3 linked regions of the Homo sapiens genome follow. The protein of the gene in region 1 binds, or shares a complex with, the protein of each later gene. Each region holds a gene or a part of one and is shown on either strand. Other genes may lie near its edges.

Region 1 (7,025 bases):
AAATTGAAGGACAGGGTACAAAGAAAGCCTTGATGTAAAGGATGAATAACATTTAGCTAGGCAAAAATTGGGATTGTCTGGTCTCGGTCAGTGGGGTATATTTTGCAAAGGTCTTGTCCCAGTAGGGAGTTTGTCAATTTCGAGCAACAGCAAAAAGGCCTCTGGGTTGTAGGTGGGTGTGTGTTCACATATGGGTATGTGTGTTCGCTTGTGTGCATGCATGTGAGGAGGCAGGGTGGGGAGTGGCTCTGGAGGAGGAGAAGGGCACAGATTCTCAGTCCTGTAGCACTCTTGTTCAGAGCATCAAGTAGACCTGAGAATTGTATGTTGATCATTGGTCCGCCAAGCAGTTCGTATGGCCTTGTTTCCCAGAACTCCATCATCAAGTGGATGTGGTGACCATATACTTTATCATCAAAACCAGGATACTCTTTTTTTTTTTTTTTTTTTTTTTAAACTTCTTTTTCTATGTTGCCCAAGCTGGTCTTGAATTCCCAGGCTCAATGGATCCTCCCGCCTCGGCCTCCCAAAGTGCTGGGATTACAGGCGTGAACCAACATGCCCGGCAAACCAGGATACTCTTGAGAGTGAAAGGGGACACTATTAATTATGTTGGGACAACGGGTATAAAACAGTACTTATAGACCAGTTCTCAGCCACTCCAGGGAGCCCCAAAGTTGCCTAGAAACCATGCTCTGAAATGACAGGGTTAGTCACGTGCTCCTGCTTTCTCACCTTTTCCTCTTCCTTCATCCATGAATAACTCTGAAAGAGGGGCACCAGGAGAAACTGCTCCAAGTCTATACAACAGAATCTTAGCCCCCATGGCCCGCCCAGCTGCAGCCTCCTGTTTTTCAGACTGCCATCTGATCTCTGACTATTAATGTGTTTTCAGAATTAAAGTCTAAAAAACGTATAGAAAAGAAAGTAAGGCCTTAAAAGTTTAGCACGTGAACTTTTCCCACTAGAAGCTTTTCCTACACTGCTTCTTATGGATTACATGGCCTAATTATATGTTCCCGGAGGGCCACTGGGCAGAATGGGTGTGGTCTAACTTCTTTCAGAGTAAACATGTTTTGTGGATTGGCCCCTATGGTGGATAATGGTGAATAATGCATGGAGTAAATACCTACAGGAAGCCTTCCCATAGGTGTAAAACCTTTATTTCAGGAAATAAAAGGAAGATATATTGATTTTTTAATTAGAATCAACTGTTTGGCTGAATCTGCATAATGAGGATTAATGGAGCTTTATTTCCTGCTCTCTCTGCCCAAGTCACTCTACAGTAGGGCCCTCAGAGAGCCCTAGTAACTTCTTCAATTTACTGACAGATGGATCACTTTGCAGTAAAATAATATTTAATGGTCGGTAACTGCGAGAATGTGGGATCTCATTGTCCTCCTCAGCCTTTCTTCAACAACCCCCCAAGTCCTCAATAAAATGGTTTGACCCTGTCCCCCATAATAATTTTTAATGTTCATGTTCAGCCAAATACTCAGGACACTAAGGAGTTGCACTATTTCTTTTCAAACTGCATTCAAGCTCTTTCTTTTGTTTTAAAAGCCAGGAAATGTGAAGAATTCACCTGGAACTAAGTAGAAAACTCCATGCTCTGCCATCTTAATCAGGTAAAAAACAAGAAATTTCTGTGATTATTTTCAGCATTGTAGTGCCAGCTGAAATGACTTGTTTTTAATTAATTTAATTTAATTAATTATAACAGTTTCAATTTGATGTGAAAATATTTTATTCCATCTTTTAGTTTCTGGGCTTAAATGCTGTGACTTACTTATTTGTGTTTGTTCCACTAATGTTACCTGGGTTTTTTAGACAAGCTAGAACCAGACAGTTGGGATTTGTCTACAAATGTATTTCAAACAATTGAAAAGTGTCATTATTCCTTAGGTTTTTTTCAAACAACACTTTATTATAGTAAGTACACTTGTATTTATCTAATACTCAGTGAACACTGGAATGCATGACTGTTACAGAGAGGCTCAAAACACTAGTTATATTGTTTGTGTATATATGAAAAATTGTATAATAGCACTTGTGATTTCCTGGTAATTAGAAGACTGTAATTGAATTTGGAAGCAACCTAGATATTCAACTACAGGAAAATGGCTTAATTATGGTATATCTATAAAGAAGAATATTATTATTCTGTTTCTACAGTATTTAATTGCATGGGAACGTGTGCACAATTATTGTTAAATGAAAAAAAGGTAGTGTGATATGTTTATAGAGGGGATGAAGCCAGGAGATACGACAGAAAGTGTGTATCTTTCAGTGGCATGATGATTTTTATATTTTTTTCTTCTTTATAACTTTCTGTATTTAAAAAATTTTCTGCAATGAGTATGCATTTTATAATCAGAAAATTTTTTGAAAATTGGTGTTACATTTATTGTAAATCATGGCCCTTACTTAAAATTTATGAAAACCCTGAGTTTGAAGGGTCTTTTTTCCTCAAGCTTTCTTTATATTTTTGGAGACCCAAAGAGTCACATAAACTGAGAATTTGAGAGTGGTTATCTGGCCCAACCCCCAGCCTCAAGCAGACTCCCCTGAAACCCTGTATGTTCCTTCTTTTACACCAGCACTGATGGGAAACTCACCCTATGGGGCAGCCATCCTGGGACAATTCTGAGTTTTTGGAAGCTGTTTCCTCTGCTAAGCAAAAATATGTCTCCTTAGTGGTCACAGAAAACAAATCCAGTTCCTCTTTCACAGCATAGCTGTTCATACAGTAACCCAACATCAGTATGTTCTCAGATACAAACTATTACCCGGGGAGCTTGGTAAAAGGCAAAGGGCACCCCAGAATCAGTATCTCTGGTGAATGGGGCCAGATATGCATGGGATGTGCCATTAGAAGGATGACTGGAGGGTGAGCAGCCACAGAGTGACACATGTCCTCTAGAGACTTGACTTTTAATATGGTTATATTTCTCTCTTTTTTTAAATCCCTGTCAGCCAGAATGGATATATTTCTGTACAGGGACAATGAAAAAGACATAGAATAAAGGGAAATTAGGTAAATATCCATTTCAATTTTCAAAGATACTCTGCACCAGAGTTCAGCTTGCTGAAATACACAACCTTGACTTCATTCTTTATTGTTTTTAGATCTTTATTGGAGGAGGTGTAGCTTTTAATTATAAAAGTGATTCGTGTTGGTTGTAAAAAATGTTTTTAGCTAACTGTTTTAAAAGCTTGTCTTGGCCGGGTGTGGTGGCTCACGCCTGTAATCCCAGCACTTTGGGAGGCCAAGGTGGGCAGATCACGAGGTCGAGAGATCGAGACCACCCTGGCCAACATGGTGAAAGCCCGTCTCTACTAAAAATACAAAAAAAAAAAGCCAGGCATGGTGGTAGTTGCCTGTAATCCCAGCTACTTGGGAGGCTGAGGCAGGAGAATCGCTTGAACCCAGGAGGCGGAGGTTGCAGTGAGCCGAGATCGTGCCATTGCACTCTAGCCTGGGCAAAAAGAGTGAAACTCTGTCTCAAAAACAAAACAAAAAAGCTTGTCTTATCCTTTATTCTTTTCTTTTTCTTTCTTTCTTTTTTTTTTTTTTTTTTTTGAGATAGAGTTTCACTCTTGTTGCCCAGGCTGGAGTGCAGTGGAGCAATCTTGCTCACTGCAGCCTCTGAGGCCTCCCGGGTTCAAGTCATTCTCCTGCCTCAGCCTCCCAAGTAGCTGGGATTACAGGCATGCACCACCATGCCCAGCTAATTTTGTATTTTTTAGTAGAGACAGGGTTTTAGCATATTGGTCAGGCTGGTCTCGAACTCCTGACCTCAGGTGATCCACCTGCCTCAGCCTCCCAAAGTACTGGGATTACAGGTGTGAGCCACCACATCTGGCCCCTTTATTCTTTTTTCCAGAGGTAATTTTTGTTAATAGTTTGGTATATCATTCCAGACTTTTAAATATAGATAGATAGATAGATAGATAGATAGATAGATAGATAGATAGATAGGCCGGGTGCAGTGGCTCACACCTGTACTCCTAGCACTTTGGGAGGCTGAGGTAGGTGGATTATATGAGTCTGGCAGTTCGAGAACAGCCTGGGCAATATGGCGAAACCCTGTCTCTACAAAAAATTAAAAAAATTAGCTGAGTGTGATGACGAACACCTGTAGTCCCAGTTACTTGGAGGCTGAGGTGGGAGGATCTCCTGAGCCTGGGAGAAAGAGGTTGCAGTGAGCCATGATCACTCCACTGCACTCCAACCTGGGCAACAGAGTGATACCCTGTCTCAAAAACAAATATATATATTTATTTATATTTAAAATTTATTTATAAATTAAATAAATTTATTTATACATTTATAATATATTCATGCATACATGCATGTTTTTGGTTTTTTGACAAAATGGGATCATATTCCACATATTGTTTTACAAGTTCACAGAAAACTTTCTTTTTACTGTTATTTATCTGGGGGGATGGGATCTTGCTGTGTTACCCAGGCTGGACTTCAACTCCTGGGTTTAGGTGATCCTCCCACTTCACCCTTCTGAGTAGCTGCACAGAAAACTTACTGAAGGCATATAATTGTAATTATATTATCATACATAAAGAAATTAGGCTTTCTTTGCTGCGTCTACTGCGAGAATGAAGACTATTCTCAGCAATCAGACTGTCGACATTCCAGAAAATGTCGACATTACTCTGAAGGGACGCACAGTTATCGTGAAGGGCCCCAGAGGAACCCTGCGGAGGGACTTCAATCACATCAATGTAGAACTCAGCCTTCTTGGAAAGAAAAAAAAGAGGCTCCGGGTTGACAAATGGTGGGGTAACAGAAAGGAACTGGCTACCGTTCGGACTATTTGTAGTCATGTACAGAACATGATCAAGGGTGTTACACTGGGCTTCCGTTACAAGATGAGGTCTGTGTATGCTCACTTCCCCATCAACGTTGTTATCCAGGAGAATGGGTCTCTTGTTGAAATCCGAAATTTTTTGGGTGAAAAATACATCCGCAGGGTTCGGATGAGACCAGGTGTTGCTTGTTCAGTATCTCAAGCCCAGAAAGATGAATTAATCCTTGAAGGAAATGACATTGAGCTTGTTTCAAATTCAGCGGCTTTGATTCAGCAAGCCACAACAGTTAAAAACAAGGATATCAGGAAATTTTTGGATGGTATCTATGTCTCTGAAAAAGGAACTGTTCAGCAGGCTGATGAATAAGATCTAAGAGTTACCTGGCTACAGAAAGAAGATGCCAGATGACACTTAAGACCTACTTGTGATATTTAAATGATGCAATAAAAGACCTATTGATTTGGGGAAAAAAAAAAAAAAAAGAAATTAGGCTGGGGCTGGGCGTGGTGGCTCACGCCTGTGGTCCCAGCACTTTGGGAAGCTGAGGTGGGCGGATCATGAGGTTAGGAGTTTGAGACTAGCCTGGCCAATATGGTGAAACCCTGTCTCTACTAAAAATACAAAAATTAGCCAGACATGGTGGCGTGCGCCTGTAGTCCCAGCTACTCGGGAGGCCGAGGCAGGGGAATCGCTTGAACCCGAAAGGCGGAGGTTGCAGTGAGCCGAGATCACGCCACTGCACTCCAGCCTGGGTGACAGAGTGAGACTCTGTCTCAAAAAAAAAAGAAAAAAGAAAAAAAGGAAATTAAGGCCGGGCATGGTGGCTCATGCCTGTAGTTCAAACTACTCAGGAGGCTGAGGCAGGAGAATTGCTTGAACCCGGGAGGTAGAGGTTGCAGTGAGCCAAGATCGTGCCACTGCACACTCCCAGCCTGGGCAACAGAGAGAGACTCCGTCTCAAAGAAAGAAAGAAATTGCACTAATTCCTTAACATCATCTAATATCCAGTTCAATGTACACATTTTCCTGGTTGTTTCATGAATAACTTTTTACAGTTGGTTCGTTTGAACCAGGATCCAAACAAGATCTGCCTGTTGTGTTTGACTGATAGGTCTCTTAGAACTGTAATAGTTTCCGCTCCCTCATTGTCCCTTGCTATTTATCTGTTGAAAAACCTGGCTTATTTGTCCTTTAGAATTCCTGTTTTCTACAAGGATTGAGCTGGGAGGGGAAAAAAAGAATTTCTCATGTTCTGGCTGTGGCCGAATGTATCCATTTAGTATCATTCTGTTTATCTCTTGGTTTCTTTCTTCTCTATATTTCCCATAAACTTATAGTTGGATCCGAAGGCTTAATTAGACTTAGGTTCATTTTTTTTTTTTGCCATAGACAGTACTATATTAATCTATGCTGATGAATGAATGAACTTGTTTTACATAACATATTGTGTAAGTATTTCCCTGTCAGTACTTAATAGAGCTACGCATTCCTTCTCTAGTTGCTTAATGATTTCCTAGTATGGACTACCATGATCTACTTAATCCTTACCAACATAGGTTGTTTCCAGTTTTTAGTTTTTAACAATGCAATAAATCTATCAAATTCCTGGGGAAGACAAAAGCAGATTAATAAACTGAGATAGAAAAAATAAGCTAGTAGTTTACATGTTTAAGAATTTTTGGTTGTATATTAAAAGATCAAGTGAATAGTCACTGGCCTCTAAAATATTTAGAAATCTCCAATTGTGCCGGGCACGGTGGCTCATACCTGTAATCCCAGCACTTTGGGAGGCTGAGGCGGGTGAATCACCTCAGGTCAGGAGTTCGAGACCAGCCTGCCCAACATGGTGAAACCACATCTCTACTAAAAATACAAAAAATTAGCCGGGCGTGGTGGCGCCTGCCTGTAATCCCAGCTACTCAGGAGGCTGAGGCAGGAGAATTGCTTGAACCCGGGAGATGGAGGTTGCGGTGAACCGAGAGGACGCCACTGTACTCCAGCCTGGGCAACAAGAGTGAAACTCCGTCTCAAAAAAAAAAAAAAATCTCTAATTGCTGAGTATATTCATTACAAATTATGAAAAAAAGCCAGGCGTGGTGGCTCACGGCTGTAATCCCAGCACTTTGGGAAGCTGAGGCAAGCAGATCACTTTAGGTCAGGAGTTCGAGACCAGCCTGGCCAACATGGTGAAA
Region 2 (7,025 bases), on another chromosome or scaffold:
TAGGCTCCCTGACACCATACTCTTCTGGCCTTTCTCTTACCTTGCTGGCCACTCCTTAACCTCCTTTTCTGCTCAGCCTCTCAAATGGTGGCATACCTGGCATTAGTTCTGAAACGTTTTCTCCATCTGAACTGTCTCTAAGTGTTCTTGTTGAGTCCCGTGACTTGGAAGTTTAAATACCATCTATACCTGATAAATGTCTATCTCCAGCTCTGACCTCTGCCTTGGCTTCAGGTTCCTATCCAGCAGCCTACCTGGTATCTCCAGCTTGATTTTCAGTAGTCATTTCATGCTTATCATGCTCCAAACAGATTTATTTATTCTCTCCAACCTGTCTTCCAGCCCCTCAACTTGTTTCTCTCTAAATAAACTGAGTTGAACAATCTGCTCAGCTATTCCAGCCCAAATCATGCTTTGTTGTTCCTCCATCAACTCATATTCAGTTGCCCCACAGATCCTACCAGTTTTGCATCCAACATAAATCCCAAATCTGTCCACTCCATTACTACCACCTTAGCCCAAGCTGTCATCTTAACAGCTTCCACTATTTTTTCTTTTTCTTTCTTTTTTTTTTTTTTTTTTTGAGACAGAGTCTGTCTTTGTGGCCCAGGGTAGAGTGCAGTAGTGCAATCTTGGCTCATTGCAACCTCTGCCTCCCAGGTTCAAGTGATTCTTGTGCCTCTCAGCCTCCTGAGTAGCTAGACTTACAGGTGCATGCCACCACATGTGGCTAATTTTTGTATTTTTAGTAGAGACGGGGTTTTGCCATGTTGGCCAGGCTGGTCTCGAACTCCTGACCTCAAGTGATCCACCTGCCTTGGCCTCCCACGGCGCCAGAATTACAGGCATGAGGTACCATGCCCGGCCTTCCCCAAGGAATTTAAACACCAAAGTGCTGGGATTACAGGTGTGAGCCACCATGCCCAGCCAATTTGCCCTTTCTTCATACCCTTCTTTCTGTGTCTATTTACGCAGGCAAATAAAACATAGTCGAATCAGACACTACACTGCTGGAAATCCTCCATGGACTACCCATTTCATTTAATATAATTCCAAATTCTTAACCAGTACCCAAAAGGCTTCTTGATCACTGCATGCCATGAGCCATTTCACTGCTCCAGGCACCCTGGTATTTTTTGTCTGTACCTTGACTATATCTTTTGTCTTGGGACCTTTATGTTTTCTCTGCCTAGTACATTGTTCTATCCTCTCTGTTTAAACCTTGAGCTCTAAGCTTAAGTTTTAAGCCTAGATGTCACTTTGTTAGCAAGACTGAGATTTCCTATCCCTTCAGTCCAAAGTAGAGTCTCTGTATTACTTTCTGTTATGTTGCCCTGTTTATTTTAAATGTAAGGTGGGGGAAAAGGAGGTTGAAGGGGTGTTGATGCTTCACAACAGGTCCTTGCCTGCTCAGTCATATGTAGAAATATGTATCACAATCTCAGATGTCTTTTTTGTTTACTGTCTGCTGCCTCCATTGAGATATACACTGTGAGAGCAAGAAGTTCGTCTGCCCTAAGCACCATTGGATCCGTACAGATAGTAGGCACTGCCTGGCACACAGGGCTAGTAGCACTTCATAAATACTTATGCACTGACTGAATGGATTCATTGATTTATTATATTGTTTCTGAGAAAAAATAAGTTCTGGATTTCAGGTAATCAGTGTTAAGTAATTTGTAAAGTGACCTATGGCTATTTGTTAGGCAAGGTATATTTTTTGGTTTTTTTTGGCCCATGTTGAATTTAAATTCATTTAAAAATAAGCAGTTTTCTTTGTTTAGAAGTCTATGTCAAGTCTATGTCAATAACTACCAGATACTTACTAATTTTCTTTTCTTTTTTCTTTTTGAGATGGAGTCTTGCTCTGTCGCCCAGGCTGGAGTGCAGCAGCGCAATCTTGGCTCACGGCAAGCTCTGCCTCCTCGGTTCACGCCATTCTCCTGCCTCAGCCTCCCGAGTAGCTGGGACTACAGGCACCCGCCACCACACCCGGCTAATTTTTTTTTTGTATTTTTAGTAGAGATGGGGTTTCACCATTTTAGTCAGGATAGTCTCAATCTCCTGACCTCATGAGCCACCTGCCTCAGCCTCCCAAAGTGCTGGGATTACAGGTGTGAGCCACCACGCCCGGCCAACTAATTTTCTTAATGATTCTTCAAAGTAGGCATTATTACTCACAAATGAGAAAGTGGAGATTTGAGAAGATAAATCATTTCCCCAAGGTCACACAGATGGTTGTAGTAAAGCTACGCTTGATTCCAAGTATATAGTTACTTTTTTTCATATCCTGGATTTAGTTATTTCTCAGAGGAGCATGTGATTCAGGAAATGGCAGTGTTTTATATGAGAGGCAGCCTGGTGATGTGGAAAAACCACAAGTTTGGGGGTGAGAGAGACCTTTGTTTGAAATCTGGTTTTTGCCACAGCTGTGTGATCTTGTTTGAATCACCTTCCAGGGTTTAGTTTTCCGTTTCACATGAGAAGTAGAAGTGTACACATGCCTGGCACATTAGAGGCGTTCAGGATATGGAAGCTGCTGTTGTCATGGTTGATAGTGGTCTTTCTGTTTTCCTAAAAGTATATGTGGAGAATTGAAAACTAATAACTACTATGTTTGGTTTCACAGATAGAAGAAGTCAGAGATGCCATGGAAAATGAAATGAGAACCCAGCTTCGCCGACAGGCAGCTGCCCACACTGATCACTTGCGAGATGTCCTTAGGGTACAAGAACAGGAATTGAAGTCTGAATTTGAGCAGGTGAGGACCTGGACTCCCTTCAGCCACACCCCTCTTCCTGACAGGATTAAGAGACTCTCCTTTCCTTTTAATGTACTCTGAGGATGTCGAAGATTTGGAAATCTCCTTGTATGTCTACAAAACTGCTTCTTTTTACATAATGGTGTACCTGTGTGTTCATGATCAGATGTGTTTTTAAAATATATATTCTAGTCATTTGGAATCTTCAGAGCTTTAAGGAGAGTTGGTAAAGGGGATTTCAGGAATGCAGACAGTAATATTTGACATGTGTATCTTCCTCCTATAGATGGCATGGTACTGCTTAGATTTTTATAACTGAGGTAATTTCCCAGAGAAGTTTTGAAATCCCAGTAAATTATCAGGATGCCTGTAATCATAGTTTCTATTCAAGAAATCATTTACAGTAATATTAACTTGTTACTTTGTCTTGCAAGAAGATATTGAGGTTTTCTAAGTAAAATCTTCCAGAGAATCGCGATGTATGTCAGTATGAAAAGGTATTTTAAATTCTATTTGGATATTTTTCTGAGAAAAATTAATGTATAAGCTCTTAAATACAAGATATTAGAATATAATTTAATCTAATTATTATGTTTAGGTTTGCAGTACAGATAATTTACTTTCTAAAGCTGACAATTTGTGGCTGAGCACAGTGGCTAACACCTATAATCCCAGCAATTTGGGAGGCTGAGGCGGGTGGATCGCTTGAGGACAAGAGTTCAAGACCAGCCTGCCCAACATGGCGAAACCCTGTCTCTATTAAAAATACAAAAATTACCTGGGCATGGTGGTGCATGCATGTAATCCCAGCCACTCCGGAGGCTGAGGCATGAGAATCGTTTGAATCTGGGAGGTGGAGGTTGCAGTGAGCTGAGGTTGTGCCACTGCACTCCAGCCTGGATGACAGAGCAAGATTCTGTCTCAAAAATAAAATACAGTTGGCAGTTTGTTTCTGACTTTAACAGCCTTCTCTCTTCTCTTGGTATGCCTCCTCTAATATTAGGTTCCATCAGTAAACCTGTAAAGAATTATATACATCGGCCGGGCACGGTGGCTCACGCCTGTAATCCCAGCACTTTGGGAGGCCGAGGTGGGCGGATCACGAGGTTAAGAGATCGAGACCATCCTGGCCAACATGGTGAAACCCATCTCTACTAAAAATACAATAATTGGCATGGTGATGCATGCCTGTAATCCCAGCTACTTGGGAGGCTGAGGCAGGAGAATCACTTGAATCTGGGAGGCGGAGGTTGCAGTGAGCCAAGATTGTGCCACTGCACTCCAACCTGGCAATAAAGCAAGATTCCATCTCAAAAAAAAAAAAAATATATTATATACATCAAATATGAGTCAGGACATTTTTGAAACTTTACACAAAATGTAGGAATTTCGTGACAACTCTAAGGCCCTCTTTGCTTCAGCAAGTAGTTGCTGGAAGATTACACAGTTACATGACATGCATTGAGTATCACTTTTTTCTGGAACTATTTCTGTTTTATTTCAGAACCTGTCTGAGAAACTCTCTGAACAAGAATTACAATTTCGTCGTCTCAGTCAAGAGCAAGTTGACAACTTTACTCTGGATATAAATACTGCCTATGCCAGACTCAGAGGAATCGAACAGGCTGTTCAGAGTAAGCATAAGCTATGTTTATCTTACAGATAATTTTCCTCAGCATAATTTATCAAAATAATTTTATAGGGAAAATGGGGTACATGTACTGACATCAGGACATAAAAATACTAATCACTCTACTTAATTGCAGTTTTTGCCATTAAAAGTAATGGCAAAATCTATATAACTAGAAATTTATACCTTGTATGACAAACACAAAATCACCATTTACAAGGCTATTTACCCAGTATCCTTTGGCTATGTCGCATGTGCCTGGGTGGTAAGGGCTAGGGGTCAGTGTGGTCCCATGCTTGCCTTCCACAGACTTGGTGGGTTATCTGGAGGTGGTGATTTGCCGAGTCCAACTACCAAATGGACAGTATTTATGCTGAGGCCTCCATGTGCCACATTGAAAGAGAAATGTCATGACAATGAGGGTATTAATAAAATGGGTTTTTTTAGGATGTTATGGAATCTTTTTTTGTCACATAACAATAAAAATAAATTCAATACTCATGGAATTTCAAGATCCAGTAGTCTGTTAAGTTCGTTTGAAGTCTCCCATTTCTTTTTTTTTTTTTTTTTTTTTTTTGAGACAGAGTCTTGCTCTGTCGCCCAGGGTAGAGTGCAGTGGTGTGATATCGACTCACTGCAGCCTCCGCCTCCTGGGTTCAAGCGATTCTCCTGCCTCAGACTCCTGAGTAGCTGGGAATACAGGTGCGTGCCACCACGCCTGGCTAGGTTTTGTATTTTTAGTAGACACAGGGTTTCACCATGTTGGCCAGGCTAGTCCTGAACTCCTGACCACAAGTGATCCACCCACCTCGGCCTCCCAAATTGCTGGGATTACAGGCATGAGCCATTGTGCCTGGCCCTGAAGTCTCCCATTTCTTTGCAGAAAATTTCTCATGGCCTTAGCGTTAAGTCTTAGCCTAATTTAAATAATATGTTTCTTTCTCAACTAGTAAAGGTAAAAATATGTGGATTAGATATCATGCAGATGTGAATGACTTCTGACTTTGATATGAAGAGGCCAGCTAGGAAAATACACCAGAAATAAGTGGTGGGGGTGGGGTTGTAAGAAAGTCTCTCTGGCCTCATCTTGCACATGTGTAGATGTAGCTTGTTGAATGTGCATCAGTTCTGTGGATGTATGTTGTCAGATGGAGAGAAAAATGTTTGGCTTTGCCTTTTTTTCTTTGTAGGCCATGCAGTTGCTGAAGAGGAAGCCAGAAAAGCCCACCAACTCTGGCTTTCAGTGGAGGCATTAAAGTACAGCATGAAGACCTCATCTGCAGAAACACCTACTATCCCGCTGGGTAGTGCAGTTGAGGCCATCAAAGCCAACTGTTCTGATAATGAATTCACCCAAGCTTTAACCGCAGCTATCCCTCCAGAGTCCCTGACCCGTGGGGTGTACAGTGAAGAGACCCTTAGAGCCCGTTTCTATGCTGTTCAAAAACTGGCCCGAAGGGTAGCAATGATTGATGAAACCAGAAATAGCTTGTACCAGTACTTCCTCTCCTACCTACAGTCCCTGCTCCTATTCCCACCTCAGCAACTGAAGCCGCCCCCAGAGCTCTGCCCTGAGGATATAAACACATTTAAATTACTGTCATATGCTTCCTATTGCATTGAGCATGGTGATCTGGAGCTAGCAGCAAAGTTTGTCAATCAGCTGAAGGGGGAATCCAGACGAGTGGCACAGGACTGGCTGAAGGAAGCCCGAATGACCCTAGAAACGAAACAGATAGTGGAAATCCTGACAGCATATGCCAGCGCCGTAGGAATAGGAACCACTCAGGTGCAGCCAGAGTGAGGTTTAGGAAGATTTTCATAAAGTCATATTTCATGTCAAAGGAAATCAGCAGTGATAGATGAAGGGTTCGCAGCGAGAGTCCCGGACTTGTCTAGAAATGAGCAGGTTTACAAGTACTGTTCTAAATGTTAACACCTGTTGCATTTATATTCTTTCCATTTGCTATCATGTCAGTGAACGCCAGGAGTGCTTTCTTTGCAACTTGTGTAACATTTTCTGTTTTTTCAGGTTTTACTGATGAGGCTTGTGAGGCCAATCAAAATAATGTTTGTGATCTCTACTACTGTTGATTTTGCCCTCGGAGCAAACTGAATAAAGCAACAAGATGAAAACTGAGTATCTTATCCCTTTTCAAAAAGTACAGTTCTGGCCAGGTGCAGTAGCTCACGCCTGTAATCCCAGCACTTTGGGAGGCTGAGGCGGGTGGATCACCTGAGGTTGGGAGTTCGAGACCAGCCTGACCAACATGGAGAAACCCATCTCTACTAAAAATACAAAATTAAGCTGGGCGTGGTGGCGAATGCCTGTAATCCCAGCTACTCGGGAGGCTGAGGCAGGAGAATCGCTTGAACCTGGGAGGTGGAGGTTGCAGTGAGTCAGGATCGCACCATCGCACTCCAGCCTGGGCAACAAGAGCAAAACTCCGTCTCAAAAAAAAAAAATTCTAGTTTGTTGTATGTACAGAAAATATCCTTGAGAAACAACAACAGCAGAAGTAGGAACTTCTAGCTCACAGTTTCCAGGCTGTGAATTGCGTCACCAGAAGTCCACAGCCTGCTTTTTGCCTTTGAAGGTTTTGGTGAATTGATTCCTGCTGCTCAGACTCAAAA
Region 3 (7,483 bases), on another chromosome or scaffold:
TCAAGCGATTCTTCTGCTCAGCCTTCCAAGTAATTGGGATTACAGGCATGTGCCACCATGCCCGGCTAATTATTTTTTGTATTTTTAGTAGAGATGGGGTTTCACCATGTTGGTCAGGCTGATCTCAAACCCCTGACCTCAAATGATCTGCCTGCCTCAGTCTCTCAAAGTGCTGGGATTACAGGCGTGAGCCACTGTGCCTGGCCAGAACTTGTTCATCTTATAACTAAAGTTTGTACCCTTTGACCATTTCCCCATGCCCCCACTTCCTAATCCCTGGTAACCAATGTTCTATTCTGCTTCTATGAGTTCAACTTTTTTAGATTCCACATATAAGTGAGATCATACAGTATTTGTCTTTCTGTGCCTGGCTTATTTCACTTAGCAAAATGTCCTCCAGGTTCGTCCATGTTGTCACAAATGGCAGGATTTCCTTTTTTATGGCTGGATAAAACACGCGTGTGTGTGTGTGTGTGTATGTATATATATGTGTGTGTAAAACATTTTATCTGCTCATCTGTTGATGGACACAGGTTGTTTCCATATTTTGGGTATTTTGAATAATACTACAATGGACATGGGGGAGCAGATATATTTTCAAGATTTCATTTCCTTTAGATATATACTGTTAAAGGAAAAACTTGAGACTGATTAAAGAGTTTGAGAAAAGGACAAGTTACAAATCAGGGAGCCCCCCAAATCAGAATAGCTTCAAAGAGACTTCAGTGCTGCCAGTGGGGTTGGAGAGGATTTAGGGACAGGAAAAGGAAAATGACATAAATAAAATGGAAGTGAAATACAGAAATAGCCAGATTGGTTACAGCTGGGTTACAGACTTATTTGAACACCGAACAGTTGGCCACCTGTGAGTAGTATGTCTTCTGATTGGCTGAGACTTGGCTACTTGTTATAAGAGTAGGTTACAGTCTGTTTACACATCCAGTTAGATTACAGTTCACTATGTATGGATCAACCTTTAGGCTGAACTTACAAGGAAGCAGCTTTAGGCTAAAGTTAACTATACAGAAATAGGATTATTAGATTGTATTGACTTTTGGGGGAGTTGCCATACTCTCTCCCATAATGGCTCTACAAATTTATATTCCCACCAGCAGTGTGCAGGGTTCTCTTTTCTCTACATCCTCACCAACACTTCTCTTGTCTTTATTACAATACTGATTCTCACAGGTGTAAGGTGATATCTCACCATGGTTTTAATTTGCATTTCTCTGATGATTAGTGGTGTTGAGCGCTCTTCATATGCCTGTTAGCTATTCACATGTCTTCTTCAGAAAAATGTCTATTCAAGTCCTTTGCCCATTTTTAAATTGGGTATTTATTTTTGCTATTGAGTTGTGTGAGTTCCTTATAGAGTATATTTGGATATTAAGCACTTATCAGATATATGGTGCCCAAATATTTTCTCCCAGTCTGTAGGTTGCCTTTTCAGTTTGCTGCTTGTTTCCTCTTATGTGGAGAAGCTTTTTTAGTTTGATGTCATACCATTCGTTTATTTTTACTTTTGTTGTTTGTGCTTTTGGTGTTATAGCCAAAAAAATTATCATCAAGACCAATGATAAGAAGCTTTCCACCTATGTTTTCTTCTAGGAGTTTTGGGGTTTCAGATCTCACATTTAAGTCTTCAATTCATTTTGAATGGATTTTTTATGTGGTGTAATACAAGGGTCCAATTTCCTTCTTTTGAATGTGGATATCCCGTATTTCCAGCTCCAATTATTGAAGAGACTTTCCTTTCTCCATAGTGTGTATATTCTCGGCACCATTATCAAACATTAGTAGACCATATATGCATGGGCTCTCTATTTTTCTGCATTGATCTATGTATCTATTTTTATGCCAGTACCATACTCTTTTGATTACTACAGCTTTGTAATATAGTTTGAAATCAGGGAGTATGATGCCTTCAGCTTTCTGCTTCTTTCTCAAGATTGCTTTGATGATTTGGGGTCTTTTGTGGTTCCATATGAAATGTTAGAATTGTTTTTTCTATTTATGTGAAAAATGTCATTAGAATTTTGATAATGATGACATTGAATGTGTAGATTACTTTGGGTAGTAAAGCCATTTTAACAATATTAATTCTTCTGATCTATAAACACAGGCTATCTTTCTACTTATTTATGTCTCCTATAGTATCTTTCAACAGTGTCTTATAATTTTTAGTGTGCAATTTTTTGTGTGCATCTTTCTTTCACCTCCTTGGTTAAATTTATTCATATTTTATTCTTTTTGGTGTTATTGTAAGTGGGATCATTTTCTTAATTTCTTTTTGAATAGTTTGTTGTCAGAAATCAGTAATAGGAAGAACTTTGGAAAATTCACACATGTGCGGAAATTAAACAACACATTCCTGAACAGCCAATGAGCCAAAGAATAAATCAAAAGGGGAATAAACAAGTATCTTGAGACAAATGAAAATGGAAACACAAGGTACCACAACTTATAGGATGCAATAGAAACATTTTTAAGAGGGAAGTTTATAGCGAAAAATACCTACATTAAGAAAAAAGAAAGACATCAAACAACCTAATTTTATATCTCAAGGAACTAGAAGAGGAACAAACTAAGCCCCAAAGTCAGCAGACTGAAGGAAATAAAAAAGATGAGAGCAGAAATAGAAACTAGAAAAACAACAGAAAAGATCAACAGTAAAGATCAACAAAATTAACAAACCTTAGCTAGACTAACCAAGAAAAAAGGTAATTCACATAAACAAAAGTATAAATGAAAGAGGAGACATTACAACTGATATCACAGAAATACAAAAGATCATAATCAACTACTATGAACAATTATACACCAAGAAACTGGATAATTTAGGAGAAATGGACGAATTCCCAGAAACATACCATCTATCCAAACTGAGTCTTGAAGAAACAGAAAATCTGAACAGACCAATAACGAGTAAGGAGATTGAATTAGTAATCATAAACCTCCAAGGAAAAGAGACAAAGGAAAGCCCAGGACCAGGTCTGACCACATCTTTACTCAGTTTTCCCCGCGGCCCCCGGTCCCCACCCCTCTTAGCCTGTCTCCCTAACTTCCTTTCTCCTGAGGTGCTCCCCCAGGAAACTCCTTGCACCAGAATCCCCTACGCAGGCTCTGCTTATAGGGAAGAAATGGACGACAGAGGTGATGGAGTGGGGTGCGCCAATGAAGTATTTTGAATGAAACTAGCAGACACCTTTGTTCCTAAAGATTCCATCGTCACACCAGCTCTGGGATGTTTACTAGCTTCTTCACCCTGAGCTATTCTCAATCTCAGAGCCTTACTGCTCTCTCTCAATCATTCTCTCCTCCTCACCCCTTTCTTTCCAGGTTGCCAATAGGAGCTCCAAATATTTTCTGGCTATTTCATGTAGCCATCTAGTTTTCCTCAGCTCGGCTTCAGGCGCACTTTTGCAAATCAAAGCCATTCAGCAACTCAGAGGAACAAAAAGGGGCTTATTTGAAGGTAGCAGTGTCTATGACTGGCAACCGTCTGTGTGCTCCCTTACACATAGGGTCCTGTGTAAGAAGCCTACACACAATGCCTGGCACACTGCACTCCACACATGGTATGTACACTCCTTGGGCAATGCCTCCTAACGGCTTAGGACCATTCCCTGTCCTCCCGGGGCGTTTAGAATAAAACCCACACTCAGACCCTGCCTCACAAGACCCGACATGATTTGGGTCCTCACCACTCCTCTGCCCTCTTCTCACTTTCCAGCCATGGGATGACCCCTCTTTCTCTTTTCCTGCCTGAGACTCCCAGGAAACCTCTTCCCCTACCTTTTTCTACATAAATCCTACTCTCCCGCCGGCTCAGTTCAAAGCTTCTTCCTCAGAGGTTGCTCTGGCCACTGAAATTAAAAGAGGCCTCCTTCTGTTCATTTTACTAGTGGCATCGCCATGCAGTTTTCCGTGTATTACAGTCAGTTTCCTTGCGTGCGTGTTTGGCTTTTCACTTGTTTTCCCCTTGCACTGTAAACCTCTCAAGGGCAGGACACTCGCTGTCTTGAGGGGCGCTGTAATGCCAGGGCCAGGTCCCTGCTCGTCTGGCGCTCAGCCCGTGCTGCTCTACACGTGTTTGCTGAATGAATGGAGCAGTGAACCCTCAGAAATTCGCCTCCAGATGAGCGCCTTGGCCGTCTCGGCGTCTCCTGGCCTCAGAACATCACCCTTGGCTCTCCCTCAAGGGGGAGCTCCCAAAGCGAGAACGTGACCCTGTCCTGCACCCAGCCCTCCACTCCAGGGCCTCCGCCGGTACACATCTTCGGCCTCAGCCTAACGCACTCTAGCAGGCACAGACCGCCACGCCCCCACCCCTCCAGACGGAAGGACTGCAATCCCCACAAGGCACCGCGACTCAGCGCCACCCGATTGGTGAAGCCTCTGGCGTCGGCCAATAGGACGTGGCTTTGTTGGCGTGTGCCGCGGCCGCGCGAGTCCTGGAAAGCGTTGTTGGCCCGGTTGCTCTGGAGCCGGGTCTCGGGTCTGGTGGCTGCCGGCCCTGCGGCATCTCGCCATGGGGAGCACGGAGAGCAGCGAGGGCCGCAGGGTGTCCTTCGGAGTGGACGAGGAGGAGCGGGTCCGGGTGCTGCAGGGTGTCCGGGTGAGCGGCGCCGCCTGGGCCGGGGCGGGCGTGGAGGCCGCGGGCGCGGGGGGGAGGTGCGGGGCGGAGCGCAGGGCCGGGGCTCTTTCCACGCGTGAGGGGCGTGGGGCTTGGGAGACTCCGGGGGCTCAGGCCAGGAAGAGGCTGAGCCGAGACGCGAGCCCGAGGCTGGCAGCCTTGGAGCTTCGCGACATGGGCTTCAGGGAAGGAGGAGTGAAGAACTGTACAGGTGCGAGGCCCCTGGGACACGAGGGACGCCCTGGCCACGTCCTGGCTCCGGTCGGCTTAGTTTTTACGTTTCTTGAATTTGCGCCCGGCCTCCCAGCCCGTGGCCCCTCAGGTGCGCGCATCTCGTTCTGGGTACGCGGTGTCTCCCACCTGGGCTTTGCCTGGGGACTCAGCTCTTCCCCGCCGGCCTGTTCTCCACAGCACATCTGCGGGGCGCAGGAAGAACCATAGCTCAGATCTGATCCCCTTCCTTGCCTGAAACCCTCCAGTGGGTTCCTAGCGCGCTTGGATGATGCCTTCCCTGGTTCCAAAGCTGGCCGCTGCCCGTCGACCTCTGGGGACTGCATCCCTCTGGGACTGCATCTCGTGCCATTTCCCTCGCGTGGCACCCGCACCTCGTCCCCAGCCTCAGGACCGCCGTGTTTTCCTGGAGGGTGCCGCTGGCTCAGCTCAGGGTCTGTGCGCCGGCTGTTCTCTCTCCTTCAGCTCTCCTTAAATCCCGCTGTTTCTTGTAATTCTTGTTGTAATTCAGATATCACCAGAGAATCCTTCCCTGACCACCCAATCTGAAGTAACCTCCCACCCCGCGTCCAACATTTATTATTTTCATAGCACTCATCACAGTGATCGCTTCTGTTGATAATTGTTTACTTGTTTATTGCGTTTACTGCTAGAGTGTAAGCTTTTTGAGGCTAAGGTTCCTGTCTGATTGAAGACTGTCCCCAGAACCCAGAAGAATAAAAGCAGCTCTTATTGCAGTGTAGGGGCCATGCGTTGGACTAAACCCTTTATAAGTTAACTGATTTAATTTTCAACAGCCCTATTTAGCCCATTATTGTAGATTAAGGAGAAGTGAGGCACTGAGAGGTGAACGAACTGATCCAAGATCATGTAAATAGTAAGTGGGAGAGCTGGGATTGAAACAAGCCAATTCCAGGGCATGTTGCTGTGCTCGGCCTCTTCCTCCACCTGTGTCTACACCTGCAGGTGCTTTGTAAGTAACTGTGGAGAGATGAATGAACCCAGTAAAAGGGACTAGGATTAAATGAAACGCACAGAGCTGGGTGTAGATGAATTAGTTAATTAAGGAGGAATTAGGGAGGTGGCTTAGAAAGACAGACTTCAGGAGTTCTGGCAGGTGCTCATTAGCTGTGTGACCTTGGGTAAAAAACTCTTTTGAGCCTCAATGGCCACATTAAAAAAAAAATTGGGTGTGTATGTATCCTAGGTACTGCCTAGGATAAGATGATGTCTGTGAAAGTGTTAAGGAAACGCACAGAGAGAGTGCTTTGTGGAGGCCTCTCTTCTTAGCCTAGCAGAGTACTTGGCACATTTGGTGCTTGCTAGGCGTTGTATAGTTTTGTGGACCTCACTCGTGGCAAGGATTAAATGGGGGAGGAGATGGCTTGTGTTGGAAGGCCGAGAGGGAGGAACCTGAATTGGAATTTAGAAAGATAAGCTTGGCTCTGTTTGGGTGCTCTCACCCTTGTGATTTGGTCTCCTGTTTTGGGGAATGTTGGAAAGTTAAGTTGGAGTCCTCAGAGGTTCAGGGGAGTGCCTTTGGGGGTGCCTTCTTTCAAGTTGATTGGAAACCTCATGTTTTTTGAGTATTATATAAGACAGGTACATTTCATTTCTAGTTCTCTTAAATACTTCTGCAACATATAAATTCTCTGTATTTAAAGATGGAGAATTGAGCTTAAAGGAGTTAAGGAATTTGCCCAAGGTGTTAACCTGAGTAACTTCTGGGACTTTAATTAAGATCTTTTCGGTGCAAAAAGCAACTTTTTCTCACTTCTGCAATTCCCCCCCATGATGTATGCAAGGCAGCCTGAAAATTTTGTGACAATACCCATACCTGTCCTGACAGGGATGATAGTGCCCCACTTAGTTTTAAAACTGGAAGGAACTTTGGTGACTGACTGCTTTCTTTTCCAGCTGGGCAAACTAATCAGAGAGGATAAATGACTTGTCCAGAGGTGCACAGTAAGGTGCACAGCCCCACGTTATGAGAGCCACGTCCTTCCTTCTGCTTGTGTTTGAAAGAGGAAAACTGAAGAAAGGAGGTGATGGTATGAAGAAAGGATGTTTTGGTGTAGAGGCTTTTTCTGTTAGCAGAGTTACTTGAGGGTTGAGGAATTCACCTTGTCTTTAGGCAAGTGAGTGAAAAAGATTGCCAGATCAACAAAACAGTTGCCAAAGGGAACAAATCAGTTCATTTAATGAGAAGCAGATGCCAAAGAAGATCTGCCCCAGCTTCTTTAGAGCAAGTTGAATATTCTTAATGACCATTTGTATTTAATTCCTGAGGCCTGGTCTTAGAAAGTGTTCTCGTCCCTGTAAGATTAAGTGTTAGTGGCTGGTAGTGGTGGCTCATGCCTGTAATTTCAGCACTTTGGGAGGCCGAAGTGGGCAGATCACCTGAGGTCAGGAGTTAAAGACCAGTCTGGCCAACATGGTGAAACCCTGCCTCTACCAAAAATACAAAAGTTAGCTGGGCATGGTGGCACACACCTGTACACCCAGCTACTTGGGAGGCTGAGGTAGGAGAATCCTTGAACCCAGGAGGGGGAGGTTGCAGTGAGCCGAGATTATGCCAGTGTCCTCCAGCCTGGGTGACAGAGACTCCGTCTTAAA

Evidence for each region. The genes of interacting proteins can lie anywhere in the genome.
Region 2: APOO (region 1) and IMMT share a complex: the UniProt entries of both Homo sapiens proteins name them as parts of the mitochondrial contact site and cristae organizing system (MICOS) complex.
Region 3: APOO (region 1) and CHCHD6 share a complex: the UniProt entries of both Homo sapiens proteins name them as parts of the mitochondrial contact site and cristae organizing system (MICOS) complex.

What each region holds. Positions count from the first base shown.
Region 1 is NC_000023.11:23,834,916-23,841,940, reverse strand, and holds part of APOO (MICOS complex subunit MIC26 precursor), read left to right. Parts: intron 1-1,563; coding exon 1,564-1,599; 3' UTR 1,600-1,628; intron 1,629-7,025. UniProt on the Homo sapiens protein: Component of the MICOS complex, a large protein complex of the mitochondrial inner membrane that plays crucial roles in the maintenance of crista junctions, inner membrane architecture, and formation of contact sites to the outer membrane.
Region 2 is NC_000002.12:86,143,438-86,150,462, reverse strand, and holds the end of IMMT (MICOS complex subunit MIC60), read left to right. Parts: intron 1-2,629; coding exon 2,630-2,761; intron 2,762-4,265; coding exon 4,266-4,395; coding exon of another isoform or gene 4,396-4,427; exon of another isoform or gene 4,428-4,903; intron 4,904-4,975; coding exon of another isoform or gene 4,976-5,093; intron 5,094-5,581; coding exon 5,582-6,195; 3' UTR 6,196-6,527; downstream 6,528-7,025. UniProt on the Homo sapiens protein: Component of the MICOS complex, a large protein complex of the mitochondrial inner membrane that plays crucial roles in the maintenance of crista junctions, inner membrane architecture, and formation of contact sites to the outer membrane.
Region 3 is NC_000003.12:126,699,782-126,707,264, forward strand, and holds the start of CHCHD6 (MICOS complex subunit MIC25), read left to right. Parts: upstream 1-4,458; 5' UTR 4,459-4,531; coding exon 4,532-4,618; intron 4,619-7,483. UniProt on the Homo sapiens protein: Component of the MICOS complex, a large protein complex of the mitochondrial inner membrane that plays crucial roles in the maintenance of crista junctions, inner membrane architecture, and formation of contact sites to the outer membrane.